Regions from separate parts of the Homo sapiens genome. Here region 1 is linked to region 2. A link means that fine-mapping ties the variant in region 2 to the expression of a gene that starts in the linked region. Tissue or cell type: whole blood. Region 2 holds a variant in brackets; the other region holds the start of a gene. All regions are shown on one strand. Distances are between the middles of the regions.

The links. PIP is the estimated chance that this variant, and not a neighbour inherited with it, causes the effect.
Region 1: TYK2 starts here. The variant in region 2 is fine-mapped to the expression of TYK2 in whole blood (TOPMed, PIP above 0.99). The same link has a PIP of 0.9 or more in lung, pancreas, sigmoid colon, spleen, subcutaneous fat and thyroid.

The regions. Positions count from the first base shown.
Region 1 is chr19:10,377,262-10,385,343 of GRCh38, reverse strand. TYK2 (tyrosine kinase 2) reads left to right here and starts at 4,772. Exons shown (of 25, transcript NM_003331.5): 1 at 4,772-4,964; 2 at 5,565-5,729; 3 at 6,918-7,130. The coding sequence starts at 6,938. RefSeq lists enhancers at 4,143-4,806, 4,715-4,874.
Region 2 is chr19:10,349,336-10,357,406 of GRCh38, reverse strand. TYK2 (tyrosine kinase 2) reads left to right here. Exons shown (of 25, transcript NM_003331.5): 18 at 689-839; 19 at 2,798-2,895; 20 at 3,173-3,365; 21 at 3,761-3,879; 22 at 4,309-4,481; 23 at 4,856-4,973; 24 at 6,245-6,355; 25 at 6,439-6,874. The coding sequence ends at 6,573. Among named protein-coding and RNA genes, the nearest start is that of ICAM3, 14 kb to the right of the region's middle. RefSeq lists a silencer at 3,446-3,495 and an enhancer at 3,397-4,160. The variant T/C (reference allele first, on the strand shown) is at 3,396.

The sequences.
Region 1 (8,082 bases), 28 kb before region 2:
CCTCATGTGGCATTTCCTTCTAGTTCCTTTGGGAGCGGGGAATACCGGGTCCCAGGCCCACTCGGCCCACTGTGTTCTAGCATCTAATCACGGAGCATTGCCCCAATGGCTGTTGAAAAATCTGGCACTCTCTAGGCCGGGCACGGTGTCTCACACCAGTATTACCCAGCACTTTGGGAGGCCGAGGTGGGTGGATCACCTGAGGTCGGCAGTTCAAGACCAGCCTGACCAACATGGAGAAACCCCATCTCTACTAAAAATACAAAAAAGTAGCCGGGCGTGGTGGCGCATGCCTGTAATCCCAGCTACTTGGGAGGCTGAGGCAGGAGAATCGCTTTAACCCAGGAGGCAGAGGTTGTGGTGAGCCGAGATTGTGCCATTGCACTCCAGCCTGGGCAACAAGAGCGAAACTCCCTCTCTCAATAAAAGAAAAAAGGAAAAAGAAAAATCTGGCACTCTTGGCTTCTAGGTACTGTACTCTAAGCGGCGACAGAGAGGAAGCTCACAGCCAGCCCTCCCGCAGCAGGCAGGACAACAGCCAGGGATTCCTGGCTCCCAGGCCATTCATTCCCCTCCAGCTGTGGCTTCTTAAGCCACCTACTGGGCTGGATGCACAATCTCAGGCACTGAGGGCTTAGCAGACAACCAGACGGACCTCTTTCTGGTGCGGTCCTAGAACCGCAGACAGGCAATAGAACTTGTGCTCAAAGAAACTTCCCAGGGGCTGGGCACGGTGGCTCATGCCTGTAATCCCAGCAGTTTGGGAGGTCAAGGCCAGAGGTCCACTTGAGCCCAGCAGTTTGAGCCCAGTAGTTTGAGACCAGCCTGGGCAACATAGTGAAAACCCATTTCTAAAAAAATTACACACACACAAAAGTTAGCCAGCCGGCCAGGCGAGGTGGCTCACACCGGTATTCCCAGCACTTTGGGAGGCCAAGGCGGGAGGATCACGAGGTCAGGAGATCAAGGCCATCCTGGCCCACATGGTGAAACCTCGTCCCTACTAAAAAATACTAAAAAATTAGCCGGGTGTGGTGGCATGCGCCTGTAATCCCAGCAGTTTGGGAGGTCAAGGCGGGAGGACCACTTGAGCCCAGTAGTTTGAGACCAGCCTGGGCAACATGGTGAAAACCCATTTCTTTTCCTTTTTTTTTTTTTGAGATAGAGTCTCACTCTGTCGCCCAGGCTAGAGTGCAGTGGCGCGATCTCAGCTCACTGCAAACTCCGCCTCCCAGGTTCAAGTGATTCACCTGCCTCAGCTTCCCAAGTAGCTGGGATTATAGGCACCCACCAACACACCCGGCTAATTTTTGTATTTTTAGTAGAGACGGGGTTGGTGGAAGCCCATTTCTATAAAAAATACACACACACAAAAGTTAGCCAGGCGGCTGGGCGCGGTGGCTCACTTCTGTAATCCCAGCACTTTGGGAGGCCGAGGCGTGAGGATCATGAGGTCAGGAGATTGAGGCCATCCTGGCCAACATGGTGAAACCCCATCTCTACTAAAAAATACAAAAAAATTAGCTGGGTGTGGTGGCACACGCCTGTAATCCCAGCTTCTCTGGAGGCTGAGGCAGAAGAATCGCTAGAACCTGGGAGGCAGGGATTACAGTGAGCCGAGATCGTGCCACTGCACTTCAGCCTAGCAACAGAGCAAGACTCCGCCTCAAAAAAAAAAAAGTTACCCAGGCATCGTGATGCACATCTGTAGTCCCAGCTACTCAGGAGGCTGAGGTGGAAGATTGTGAATGGTGAATCTGGGAAGTTGAGACTGCAGTGAATTGAGATCACAGCACTGCACTCCAGCCTGGGCAACAGAGCGAGATTCTTGTCTCAAAAAAAAAAAAAAAAAAAAAAAAAAGAAAGAAAGAAAGAAGAGAAACCCAGCTGGGCGCGGTGGCTCACATCTGTAATCCCAGCACTTTGGGAGGCCAAGGCGGGTGGATCACCTGAGGTCAGGAGCTCGAGACCAGTATGGCCAACCTGGCCAAACCCTGTCTCTATTAAAAATACAAAAATTAGCCAGGCGTGGTGGTGCACGCCTGTAATCCCAGCTACCGGGGATGCTGACGCAGGAGAATTGCTTGAACCTGAGAGGCAGAGGTTGCAGTGAGCCAAGATTGCGCCACTGCACTCCAGCCTGGGCAACAGAGCAAGACTCTGTCTCTTTAAAAAAAAAAAAAAAGAAAGAAACTTCCCATGAAATGTCAGGTTGCAATAAGGACTCTGAAGAAAATACAGCAGAGCCCAGGAGGTCAAGTTGCCCAGGCTGGAGTGCAGTGGTGTGATCACGGCTCACTGTAGCCTCAACCTCCTGGGCTCAAGCAATCCTCCCACCTCAGCCTTCGGAGTAGCTGGGACTAACTAATTTTTTTTCCCCCCGAGATGGAGTCTCACTCTGTAGCCCAAGCTGGAGTGCAGTGGTGGGATCTCAGCCCACTGCAACCTCCACCTCCTGGGCTCAAGCGATTCTCATACTTCAGCCTTAGACTAATTTTTTTTATTTTGGGTAGAGATGGGGTCTTGCTATATTGCCCAGGTTGGTCTTGAACTGGGCCCAGACAGTACTCCTTCTTTAGCTCCCTGAAGTGCTAGGTTTATAGGGATGAGCCACTGCATCCAGCCAGGACAAGTCTCTATCAGCATTTTATTTTATTTTATTTTATTTTATTTTTGAGACAGAGTCTCACTCTGGCGCCCAGGCTGGAGTGCAGTGGCGCAATCTCGGCTCACTGCAAGCTCCGCCTCCCCGGTTCACGCCATTCTCCTGCCTCAGGCTGCCACTACGCCCAGCTAATTGTTTGTATTTTTAGTAGAGACGGGGTTTCACCGCCTTAGCCAGGATGGTCTCGATTTCCTGACCTCATGATCCGCCCACCTCGGCCTCCCAAAGTGCTGGGATTACAGGCGTGAGCCACTGTGCCCGGCCTCTATCAGCATTTTCTTTCTTTTTCTTTTTCTTTTTTTTTTTTTGAGACAGAGTTTAGCTCTTGTTGCCCAGGCTGAAGGGCAATGGTGTGATCTCGGCTCACTGCAACTTCTGCCTCCCAAGTTCAAGCGATTCTCCTGCCTCAGCCTCCTGAATAGCTGGGATTACAGGTGCCCACCACCATGCCCAGCTAATTTTTGCATTTTTAGTAGAGACAGGGTTTCACCATGTTGGCCAGTCTGGTCTTGAACTCCTGACCTCAGGTGATCCGCCCGCCTCCACCTCCCAAAGTGCTGGGATTACAGGTGTGAAAGAGACCATTCCCGATCTCTTTCAGCATTTTCATACTGAATGTCCACAGCTGCCCTGTGAGGAGGCTTTTTACCCATATTTTCTGACTCAGAGAGAAGCAGCCACATGTCCCTTGGCCATGGCAGTTAAGACCAACTCCATGGAGCTGGGTGTCTTAGCTCACATCTGTAATCCCAGCACTTTGGAAAGCCAAGGCAGGATGATTGCTTGAGGCCAGAAGTTCAAGACCAGCCTGGGCAACATAGCCAGACCCCATCTCTACAAAAATTTAAAAATTAGCCACAAAATTTAAAAATTAACAACAAAAGGGCCGGGTGCGGTGGCTCACGCCTGTAATCCCAGCGCTTTGGGAGGGTGGATCACGAGGTCAGGAGTTCGAGACCAGCCTGGCCAAGATGGTGAAATCCCATCTCTACTAAAAATACAAAAATTAGCCGGGCGTGGTGGCGGGCGCCTGTTGTCCCAGCTACCCAGGAGGCTGAGGCAGGAGAATCGCTTGAATCCGGGAGTCTGAGGTTGCAGTGAGCCGAGATCGCAGCATTGCACTCCAGCCTGGGCGACAAGAGCGAAACTCCATCTTAAAAAAAAAAAAAAAAAAAAGTGGAAGATGAGGAAGTTGATCAGACATCAAGGATGAGCGGATGACTTAATAGGCTTCTTTGCTAAGACTTGGCTGGGCAGGTGAAAGACAAAGTCGAGGAGTGGTTATGGTGTGGCACAGAAGAAGGGTCAGAGGACGGTCTTTGTTACCTCTTCATGCCTGAGTTTCTTCCTCTGTGAAATGGGGATAATAAGAGCCGCCATACAGGGAATTGCTGCTAGGATCAAATGAGATAATGTATGTGAAACGCTCTGGCTGTAGGCTTCTCAGCAAATGGGCACGACTTGCGGAGTGGGGATTTGAATTCACGTCTGGCGGGATGTCCAAGCTGCTACCCTGACCGCTAGGGAGCTTCAGAGGACAGGGCTGCAGGTGATCAGGAAGAGGACTGGGGCAGGTGGGCGAGGAATGCCTCCCAGGAGTGAAGGAGGGGGAATTCTAGTCAGCAGGATGGAGTCGGCCAGGTAGAAACGAGGGAAAGGAGACAGGACCGGATGGAACGGGGAAGCCAAAGGGCAGGGCGTCGGAGGGTTGAATGGTGGCCGGTGCAGCTTTGAACACCGAGGTGAGGACATGCAGCTGTGTCCTAGGGTCAGGACCGTACACGCCTGACCCAATTCCACAGCACGGAGGGGAACTCCAGGATCCGGCCGCGTTGCCCACACACTTCGCTCTCCCTCCCGCCTCTCGCAAGCCCCTCCCCCGTCTCCGTCCACCGAGTGCCAGCCAATAGCAGAAGCGACAGCGCATCTGGGTGCCGACTCAGCCAATCGCGGCTGAGTGACGAATGAGCCCCAGGACCAATGAGAGTGCCGCCACCATGGCAAAAAAAAAAAAATCCAATGGTGACGAGCAGGGAGAACAGAGCAGCTGCCAATGGGCGTGTGCGTTTCAGGCGGCCAATGGGAGGAGGCGTCTCGGCGGGGGACAAGCAGTAGCTACCCGCGGGAGCGGGGAGGGGTCCGGGTTCGAGCTTGTGTTCCCCCGGAAGGGTGAGTCTGGACGCGGGCGCGGAAGGAGCGCGGCCGGAGGTCCTCAGGAAGAAGCCGCGGGGACTGGCTGCGCTTGACAGGCTGCACTTGGATGGGAGCACCTGGTGCCTCGGGACTGCTCCGATGCCCGGTGGGTGCACATCCCAGTTCCCGCCGTTGCCGGCCGGGTTTAGAGGTTTTGGGGGGAGGACATGGGGGCGTGCAGCCTTCCCAGTTGCAAACTTCACTCCGACCCTGTCTTCAAAGCTGGGTCTGGGTCCAGTGGGGACGAGAAAGGAGGAAGGAGGAAGTAGGCTCCGCGAAAGCCCCATCCCCGGGATCTCATCTATAACATGAATAGGTATTAATGGCAAAGGCTAATTAAGCGCTTACTGTATACCAGGCACTTTCTCTGCCTCCTCGCGTTAAATCCTCCCAGCAGCCTTTTGAGGTAGACACTGTTACATGCCCATTTTCCAGATGAGGAAACCAGCAACATGGGTGGAAGTGACAGCCCCTCCACTTCCATACTGGCGCCCTCAGGAGGCTCAGGCCCTGGATTGGGGGGATGGAGCTGGACATAAACTCTCCTAGGCTTTGGGGAGTCAACAGGGACTGAGGTCACTCATGGGGGTAAATGTGGGAGAGGAGAATTGTGGCCTGAAAGAGGCCATCACCACGATGAAACTAATAACAATTATGTTATTCTTGTTTTGGTCATATTTGTTCTTTTTGTGTGTGCCTGAATCAGGGTCTGTGCTGAATGTGTAATATGCGGAACTATATTGAAACATTACAACCATCTTTTGATGGCAACACCCTGAGGACCTCCCTTTTCCAGATGGGGAAACTGAGGCCCAGAATTGCTAAGTGGCTTGCTTGAGTTGACACAGGGAGCTCCAGGACTCACCCTCAGGTATGTTTGACCACATCTGCCTGTCTGGTTATTTTGGGGAGGTGTGTTAAGAGCAGATTTTTATTTTACTTTTTATTTATTTATTTATTTATTTATTTATTTATTTATTGTATTTTAGTAGAGATGGGGTTTCACCATGTTGGTCAAGATGGTCTCAATCTCCAGACCTCGTGATCTGTCCGCCTTGGCCTCCCAAAGTGCTGGGATTACAGTCATGAGCCACCGCGCCTGGCCCTTTTTATATATTTTTATTACTTATTTATTTATTTATTTATTTATATTTTTAGAGTCAGGGTCTCACTCTGTCACCCAGGCTGGAATGCAGTGGTGCGATCACTGCTCACTGCAGCCTCCAACTCCTGGGCTCAGGAGATCCTCCCACTTCAGCCTCCCGAGTAGCTTGGAGTACAGATGTGCACCCCCACGCCTGGCTAAATTTTAAAAATTTCTTGTAGAGGCCGGGCACAGTGGCTCACGCCTGTAATCCCAGCACTTTGGGAGGCCGAGGCGGGTGGATCACCTGAGGTCAGAGGTTCAAGACCAGCCTGGCCAACATGGCAAAACCCTGTCTCTACTAAAAATACAAAAATTAGCCCGGTGTGGTGGCAGGCGCCAGCTACTCAGGAGGCTGAGGCAGGAGAATCACTTAAACCCAGGAGGCAGAGGTTGTGGTGAGCAAGATTGTACCATTGCACTCCAGCCTGGGCAACAAGAGTGAAACTCTGTCTCAAAAATAAGATAAGATAAGATAAGATAAGATAAGATAAGATAAGATAAGATATAAAATAAAACGTCTTGTAGAAACAGGGTCTTGCTATATGGCCTAGGCTGGTCTCGAGCTCCTGGGCTCAAGCAATCCTCTTGCCTCAACATCCCAAAGTCCTGGGATTAGAGGCGTGAGCCACTGTACCTGGCCAGAGCAGATTTTTATATCTGTGTCAATTTGTGGAAAGAGAGGAGGGTTCAGTGTTATTGTTGATGAGAGATCTAGGTGGGGATGCATACCCCAACCCTGTCCAATAAATGTGGAAAACGAGACTCAGAGAGGGAATCGGGTCTCTAATGTCATGCCAAGATGGGAGCCCAGAATCTTCCCCTCAGGCCTTAGCTGGGGTGGGTGGAAGGTTGAAGAGCTAACAGGGGTCTCTGGGCTGAGACTTGGGAGCTGACAGATTGTCCCCTTTCCAGCTGAGCCACCTGCCGGGAGCATGCCTCTGCGCCACTGGGGGATGGCCAGGGGCAGTAAGCCCGTTGGGGATGGAGCCCAGCCCATGGCTGCCATGGGAGGCCTGAAGGTGCTTCTGCACTGGGCTGGTCCAGGCGGCGGGGAGCCCTGGGTCACTTTCAGTGAGTCATCGCTGACAGCTGAGGAAGTCTGCATCCACATTGCACATAAAGTTGGTGAGTCTGGGGCGTTGGCACCATGGGGACTGGGGTGGGTGTGCAAGCAGCAGCTGGGCCCCATCCATCCGTCTATCCACCCACCCACCCATCCACCCACCCATCCACCCACTCATCCATCCATCCATCCATCCACCCATCCACCCACCCATCCACCCTCCCAACCACCCATCCATCCACCCACCCACCCATCCATCCACCCATGCATCCATCCATCCTCCCATCCACCCATCCACCCACCCATTCACCCACCCATTCACCCATCCACCCACCCTTTCACCCATCCACCCATCCACCCATTCATCCACCCACCCACCCACCCATCCATCCACCCACGCATCCATCCACCCACCCACCCACCCATCCATCCACCCACGCATCCATCCATACATCCACCCACCCACTCATCCATCCACCCACCTATCCACCTATCCATCCACCTACTCACCCACCCATCCACCCACCTATCCACCCACCCACCCATCCACCCATCCATCCACCCACCCATTCATCCATCTATCCATCCATCCACCCATCGATCCATCCATACCCACCCATTCATCCATCCACCCATCCATCCACCCACCCATCCACCCATCCATCCACCCATCCATCCATTCATCCATCCATCCATCCACCCACCCACCCATCCATCCACCCACCCACCCATCCATCCATCCATCCATCCACCCACCCACTCACCCACTCACCCACCTATCCATGCATCCATCCATCCACCCACCCATCCATCCTCCCACCCATTCATCCATCTATCCATCCATCCATCCATCCATCCATCCATCCATCCATCCACCCACCCACCCACCTATTCATCCATCTATCCATCCATCCATCCATCCATCCATCCATCCATCCATCCATCCATCCACCCGTTCATTCGGTGAACATTTTGTAAGCATCTACTGTGTGGCAGCTGCAAATCACTGCCTTT
Region 2 (8,071 bases):
TGTGGTGGTTTTATTTTGAGACGAAGTTCCACTCTAATTGCCCAGGCTGGAATGCAATGGCGTGATCTCAGCTCACTGCAACCTCTGCCTCCTGGGTTCAAGCGATTCTCCTGTCTCAGCCTCCCGAGTAGGGGGGATTACAGGCACATGCCACCACACCCGGCTAATTTTTGTATTTTTTGTAGAGATGGGGTTTCATTATATTGGTCAGGCTGGTCTCAAACTCCTGACCTCAGGTGATCCGCCCACCTCGGCCTCCCAAAGTGCTGGGATTACAGGCATGAGCCACAGTGCCCGGCCCCAGAAGAGGTTTTATCTAAGTGTAGAATTATGCCAACAAGCCTGGCTAGGAAGGGCAGCCTAGGCAGAGTGCATGGCCTGTGCAAAGGCTGAGGCTTCAGTGTATTAAGGAGCTGTGGTCTACAGGAGGGGCAGGAGGGAAGCTTGGGGCAGGAGGCTGACTGTGACACTCCAGCTCTGCATAATCACTGGACCTGGGTCCCAGTCCTGGTTCTACGGCTGTGAGCACGTCCTCCCACTTTGTGGAGCCTCAGTTGCCTCATCTGTATAATGGAACTGATAAGAGCGGGCACCTGGCGGTCCACTCTGGGGACTTGACTCTGCCTCTTGGGGAACGGGTTGGGGGCGAGGGGAGGATGTTGACTCCTCTGGGTCCCTTTCCCAACAGAAGGAGCATTTCTACCAGAGGCAGCACCGGCTGCCCGAGCCCTCCTGCCCACAGCTGGCCACACTCACCAGCCAGTGTCTGACCTATGAGCCAACCCAGAGGCCATCATTCCGCACCATCCTGCGTGACCTCACCCGGCTGCAGCCCCACAGTGAGCTCCATCCCAGTGCTGGGACCCTGGGGAAGTGGGACGGGGCTGGGATCCCTGCTGTATGCCTATAGCGCACGAGAGGTCTCTGCACAGTGGTTCAGGGTGTGTGCCAATTTCTTGCAGTGGCATTCATAAGCATGCCCTGCCTGGCTGCCCTGAGCTCTCATTAATGTATTTATTTATTTATTTGCAATGGAATCTTGCTCTGTCACCCAGCCTGGAGCGCAGTGACGTGATCTTGGCTCACTGCAACCTCCACCTCCCAGGTTCAAGCAATCCTCCCACCTCAGCCTCCCAAGTAGCTGGGATTACAAGCGTGTGCCACCATGCCCGGCTAATTTTTGTATTTTTAGTAGAGGTGGGGTTTTGCCATGTTGGCCAGGCTGGTCTCAAACTCTAGACCTCAAATGATCTATCTGCTTCAGCCTCCCAAATTGCTGGGATTACAGGCGTGAGCCACTGCGCCTGGCCTCCTTAATGTTTTGTCTGGGGAGAGACACAACTTCTTTGGATTAGAGAATTAGACCACTGCAGTTTTTTTTTTCTTTTTAAAAAAGTTTTGTATTGTTCTCTTTAAAAAATTAATATGCTCTTTTTTCTTTTTTTTGAGACGGAGTCTCACTCTGTTGCCAGGCTGGAGTGCAGTGGTGCAATCTTGGCTCACTGCAACCTCCGTCTCCCAGGTTCAAGTAATTGTCCTGCCTCAGCCTCCTGGGTAGCTGGGACTACAGGCGCCCACCACCACGCCGGGCTAATTTTTGTATTTTTAGTAGAGACGGGAATTCACCATGTTGGCCAGGATGGTCTCAGTCTCTTGACCTCGTGATCCACCCGCCTCGGCCTCCCAAAGTGCTGGGATTACAGGCATGAGCCACTGCGCCTGACCTATTTTCTTTTTTTTTTTCTTTCTTTCTTTTTTTTTTTTTTGAGATGGAGTTTTGCTCTTGTTGCACAGGCTGGAGTGCAATGGCACGATCTCGGCCCACTGCAACCTCCGCCTCCTGGGTTCGAGCAATTCTCCTGCCTCAGCCTCCCGAGTAGCTGGGATTACAGGCGTCCACCACCACACCCAGCTAATTTTTGTATTTTTAGTAGAGACGGGGTTTCACTGTGTTGGCTAGGCTGGTCTCAAACTCCTGACCTCAGGTGATCCACCCTCCTCAGCCTCCCAAAGTGTTGGGATTACAGGCGTGAGCCACCACGCCCGGCCTAATATGCCATTTTCAACTGGTCATATCACATTTTTCTTTCTCTTTTTTGTTTTAAAGACTAGGTCTTGCTGTGTTGCCCAGGCAGGAGTGTGGTGGTTATTCAGAGGCACGATCATGGCTCACTGCAGCCTGAGACTCCTGGGCTCTAGGGATCCTCCTGCCTCGGCCTCCCAAAGTGCTGGGATTACAGGTGTGAGCCACCACGCCTGGCCAGTTTTTCTCTTTTCTCTATGAAATATCTGTGCCCTCTACCCAATCTCGGAACTTCCAGATGTCAGGTTTTTCTGTTTTTTCTTTTTCTTTCTTTCTTTCTTTTTTTTTTTTTTAAAGACAGTGTCTCTCTGTGGCCCAGACTCACTGCAGCCTCAAAACTCCTGGGCTCAAACGATCCTCCTACCTCAGCCTCCTGAGTAGCTGGGACCACAGGCATGCACCACCACACCTGGCTAATTTTTTTTTTTAACTTTTTTGTAGAGAGGGGGTTTCACCATGTTGTCCAGGCTGGTCTTGAACTCCCGGGCTCAAGTGATCTTCCCGCCTCGGCCTCCCAAACAGGTGTCAGTTTTGATGCAGCCAACTCTGCATCATTTTGTACAATAAGTGGACTCTTTCAGCTGTTGCAGGAAAAAGTTTTCTTACCTCTAGAATCGGATCCTGGGGTAGCTGTGGCTGGCTTTGTGACTCCCAAGTGTGGGCCTGCTGGGGAAAGGATCGGGGTCAGGCCTTTACCCACCGCAACTCTTCCAGATCTTGCTGACGTCTTGACTGTGAACCCGGACTCACCGGCGTCGGACCCTACGGTTTTCCACAAGCGCTATTTGAAAAAGATCCGAGATCTGGGCGAGGTGAGGGACGGGCCTGAGCTGCTAAAAGGCCCGCCTGGTCGGGAAGGAGTTTGGGGGTTGAGGATAAATTCCTACCTAAGGTGATTCTCAGGAGATGTGGGTGGGACCCTCTGCTTTGAGGGAGGCCTAGGTGCCAAGGAGTCTTAATAGAGCGGAGTAGGCGGGGCCTGGGGTATTCCGAAAGGATCTGCCTGGAGGAGTGGCCCGGGAAATCGGGGGTTGGGGAGTGGTGCAGGGATTGGGGAGGTGGAGCTGACCCTCGTGCGCTCCCGACCAGGGTCACTTCGGCAAGGTCAGCTTGTACTGCTACGATCCGACCAACGACGGCACTGGCGAGATGGTGGCGGTGAAAGCCCTCAAGGCAGACTGCGGCCCCCAGCACCGCTCGGGCTGGAAGCAGGAGATTGACATTCTGCGCACGCTCTACCACGAGCACATCATCAAGTACAAGGGCTGCTGCGAGGACCAAGGTGGGCGGGACCCGGCGAGTCCTAGAGACT[T/C]GAGGGGGCGTGGTTAGAGCGTGGGTGTGGCCTTGTGGGCGGGGCCAGTCTGGCCTAGCCAATTAGAGACTCTCAACCCCAGGCTGCAGTACGCGGTTCTTGGCATCTGGGTGAGCGTGGCTGGGCTGCCTCCTTCCCATCTGGGGGGTGCTACCTGCTGGGGCCAGGATGGACGGGAGCCACCAGCAGCTCCCTCAAGTGAGAATGGGGTTCTGGATGGGTCCATCCCACCTGAGAACTGGGTCTAGTGTGCGCGGGTCTTGGCCTTCCCTCCCGACCTTGGAGGGGCTCTGCTGGGCTCAAGGTAGGCGGTCCCCGGCCCGCCCTCTATCGTCCCCCACCGGGGCCGCCCCTCTCCGCGGCAGGCGAGAAGTCGCTGCAGCTGGTCATGGAGTACGTGCCCCTGGGCAGCCTCCGAGACTACCTGCCCCGGCACAGCATCGGGCTGGCCCAGCTGCTGCTCTTCGCCCAGCAGATCTGCGAGGTTGGTCGGCCCCGCCCCTGCTTCTGGAGCTTGCCCCTTCCTCTTCAGCTTGGGCTGGCCTGAGCGATCCGGTGCAGTCTGCTCTCACGCTCCGCCCCTGCTCGTTTGCCCAGGCTGTCTTGTCCTTGCACTGACCTCCGAACTGTTTGGCTTGCTTGGCCACACCCCCTCCTCCCAAGGGACCACGCACAGCCGGCTCGGCCCCTCCCAACTCGCCCTCCTGCCCAGCTTTGCTCGTCTAGCCCCGTCCCTGCTTTCTGGCTCAGCCTCCTTTTGCTTGGTGCCACGTGCCATCCGGCCCTCTCCAGCGGCCGGGTAGCCACCGGCCTGACCTGACTGTCCCCCAGCCCTCCTGGCTGCTCAGGTCCTGCCGCCGCCCCCGGCCGAACCCCGCCCCACTGAAACTCACGAGCCCTGCCCCGTCCCCAGGGCATGGCCTATCTGCACGCGCAGCACTACATCCACCGAGACCTAGCCGCGCGCAACGTGCTGCTGGACAACGACAGGCTGGTCAAGATCGGGGACTTTGGCCTAGCCAAGGCCGTGCCCGAAGGCCACGAGTACTACCGCGTGCGCGAGGATGGGGACAGCCCCGTGTTCTGGTGACCAGGCGGGGTGCAGTCTGAGGGGGTGCTGGGGTCACTTGGAACAGGCAGGGTGGAGTAGACGGATGCTGGGTATCATGATAGGGCATGATCCCAGTGAAGCGCGGCGGGGCCTAGCGGTGCGGGGGTGGGGCCTATGGAGGCAAGGGGCGGTGTATAGAGTGCGGCTTGGCCTGGTGGGCGGGGTTAACCCGGCCTAGCCAATGAGCGGCCTAGCCAATGAGCATATCACCCCGCTCAGGCTGCGCTCTTAAGGGTGGGTCCCAACTGAGCCCAGAGGGTCCTTCAGTCTCAGGTGAGGGCTTCAGCCTGGTCTGATCCCCAAGCCCTCAGTGCAGCCCCCCGTGGCCTGAGTGCCCCCCTCCCCCTAGGTATGCCCCAGAGTGCCTGAAGGAGTATAAGTTCTACTATGCGTCAGATGTCTGGTCCTTCGGGGTGACCCTGTATGAGCTGCTGACGCACTGTGACTCCAGCCAGAGCCCCCCCACGGTGAGAGCCAGGCCCGCAGCCCCACCGGGAGTTTGCTAGAGCAATTAGAAAGGCATAGGCTGGGCCAGGCGCGGTGGCTCAAGCCTGTAATCCCAGCACTTTGGGAGGCCGAGGCGGGCGGATCACGAGGTCAGGAGATCGAGACCAACCTGGCTAACACGGTGAAACCCGTCTCTACTAAAAATACAAAAAAAATTAGCCAGGCGTGGTGGCGGGCGCCTGTAGTCCCAGCTACTCAGGAGACTGAGGCAGGAGAATGGCATGAACCCGGGAGGCGGAGCTTGCAGTGAGCCGAGATCTCCCGACTGCACTCCAGCTGGGTGACAGAGCGAGACTCCGTCTAAGACAGGACAGGACGGAGAGAGAGAGAAAGAAAAGAAAGGAAAGAAAGGCATAGGCCGGGCGCGGTGGCTGACACCTGTAATCGCAGCACTTTGGGAGGCCGAGGCGGGCAGATCACGAGGTCAGGAGATCGAGACCAGCCTGGCCAACATGGTGAAACCCCGTCTCTACTAAAAATACAAAAATTAGCCGGGCGTGGTGGCAGGTGCCTGTAATCCCAGCTACTCAGGCGGCTGAGGCAGGGAGAATTGCTTGAACCCGGTAGGCGAAGGTTGCAGTGAGCCGAGATCATGCCACTGCACTCCAGCCTGGGTGAAAGAGCGAGAGACTGTCTCAAAAAAAAAATTCTGGACGGTAAGAACAATCTGCTGTGAGGCTTAATAATAACGGCAAACACCTGACTCACGCTTACTCTATGAATATTAGTTTAACGTTCACAGTAATCCCAGGTGGCAGATGTTATTACCCTATTTTACGGATGAGAAAACAGGCCCAGAGAAGTGAACTCAAATTCAAAGTCACACAGCTGAGAAGTGTAAGAGGTGGGATTGGAACCCATGCAGTCGATTTCATGAAGTTGCAGAGTGATTTCTTTTTCTTTTTTGAGATGGAGTTTCACACTTGTATCCCAGGCTGGAGTGCAATGGCACAATCTCGGCTCACTGCAACCTCCGCCTCCCAGGTTCAGACGATCCTCCTGCCTCAGCCTCCCAAGTAGCTGGGATTACGGGCGCCTGCCATTATGCCCAGCTAATTTTTGTATTTTTAGTAGAGATGGGGTTTCACCATGTTGGCCAGGCTGGTCTCGAACTCCTGACCTCAGGTGATCCACCCACCTCAGCCTTCCAAAGTGCTGGGATTACAGGCATGAGCCACCGTGCCTGCCTTTCATTGCCTCTTGAAAAGAGCTTGTCTTGTTTATACTGTAGAAATTCCTTGAGCTCATAGGCATTGCTCAGGGTCAGATGACAGTTCTGAGACTCACTGAGTTGCTGGAACGAGGGGAGAGGCTGCCACGGCCCGACAAATGTCCCTGTGAGGTGAGACTTCCTTTGTCTTTCCCTGACCCCACTATCCTGCTGTGGAGAGGGCAGCCCCCACCAGCCCTGGTTTTTCCTTCTAGGTCTATCATCTCATGAAGAACTGCTGGGAGACAGAGGCGTCCTTTCGCCCAACCTTCGAGAACCTCATACCCATTCTGAAGACAGTCCATGAGAAGTACCAAGGCCAGGCCCCTTCAGTGTTCAGCGTGTGCTGAGGCACAATGGCAGCCCTGCCTGGGAGGACTGGACCAGGCAGTGGCTGCAGAGGGAGCCTCCTGCTCCCTGCTCCAGGATGAAACCAAGAGGGGGATGTCAGCCTCACCCACACCGTGTGCCTTACTCCTGTCTAGAGACCCCACCTCTGTGAACTTATTTTTCTTTCTTGGCCGTGAGCCTAACCATGATCTTGAGGGACCCAACATTTGTAGGGGCACTAATCCAGCCCTTAAATCCCCCAGCTTCCAAACTTGAGGCCCACCATCTCCACCATCTGGTAATAAACTCATGTTTTCTCTGCTGGAGCCTGTGATTTTTGGAGCCCTCTTCAAGAAAGCTGGGTTAGCTGGGAGTCTGGTCTCCTGTGGACAGCAGCTAGCATGAGACAGCGCAGAGGTGGCTGGATTCAACTGTTTAACTTTTTTTTTTTTTTCTTTTTGAGACAGAGTCTTGCTCTGTCGCCCAGGCTGGAGTGCAGTGGCGTGATCTAGGCTCACTGCAAGCTCCGCCTCCTGGGTTCACACCATTCTCCTGCCTCAGCCTCCCGAGTAGCTGGGACTACAGGTGACCGCCTCCATGCCTGGCTAATTTTTTGTATTTTTAGTAGAGTTGAGGTTTCACCTTATTGGCCAGGCTGGTCTTGAACTCCTGACCTCAGGTGATCCACCTGCCTCCGCCTCCCAAAGTGCTGGGATTACAGGTGTGAGCCATTGCGCCTGGCCAATAACTACTTGTTGAATACACAAAGTATTTGGTCGGGGCGGTCACAAGCCACATAGATTAGACTGCCAGTTTCACCCTTTCACATTTGTGTGACCTCAGGCTAATGGCTTCACCTCTCTGGGCCTTAGTCCTCCATTATGGGAGCTTCACACTTGCTATCTCATAGGACTCATGTAAAGAGCTCATGAGGTGGTGTCTGTGAAATGCTGAGCAGAAAGACATGCAAACAAGTGCTTAATAAATATACAATATTGGCCGGGCACGGCAGCTCACGCCTGTAATCCCAGCACTTTGGGAGGCCACGAGGATCACAAGGTCAGGAGATTGAGACCATCCTGGCTAACACGGTGAAACCCCGTCTACTAAAAATACAAAAAAATTAGCCGGGCGTGGTGGCGGGTGCCTGTAGTCCCAGCTACTCGGGAGGCTGAGGCAGGAGAATGTCATGAACCCAGGAGGCGGAGATTGCAGTGAGCCGAGATTGCACCACTGCACTCCAGCCTGGGTGACAGAGAAAGACTCTGTCTCAAAAAAATAATAATTAAATAAATAAATATACAATATTATTGTTGACTGGATGCAGTGGCTCATTGCTTGTAACCCCAGCACTTTGGGAGGCTGAGGCAGGAGGATCCCTTGAGTCCAGGAGTTCGAGACCAGCCTGGGCAACATAGGGAGATCCTGTCCGTATTTTTATTTATTTATTTATTTGTTTATTTATTTTTGAGGCAGTTTCACTGTTCTCCAGGCTGGAGTGCAATGGTGCTATCTCGG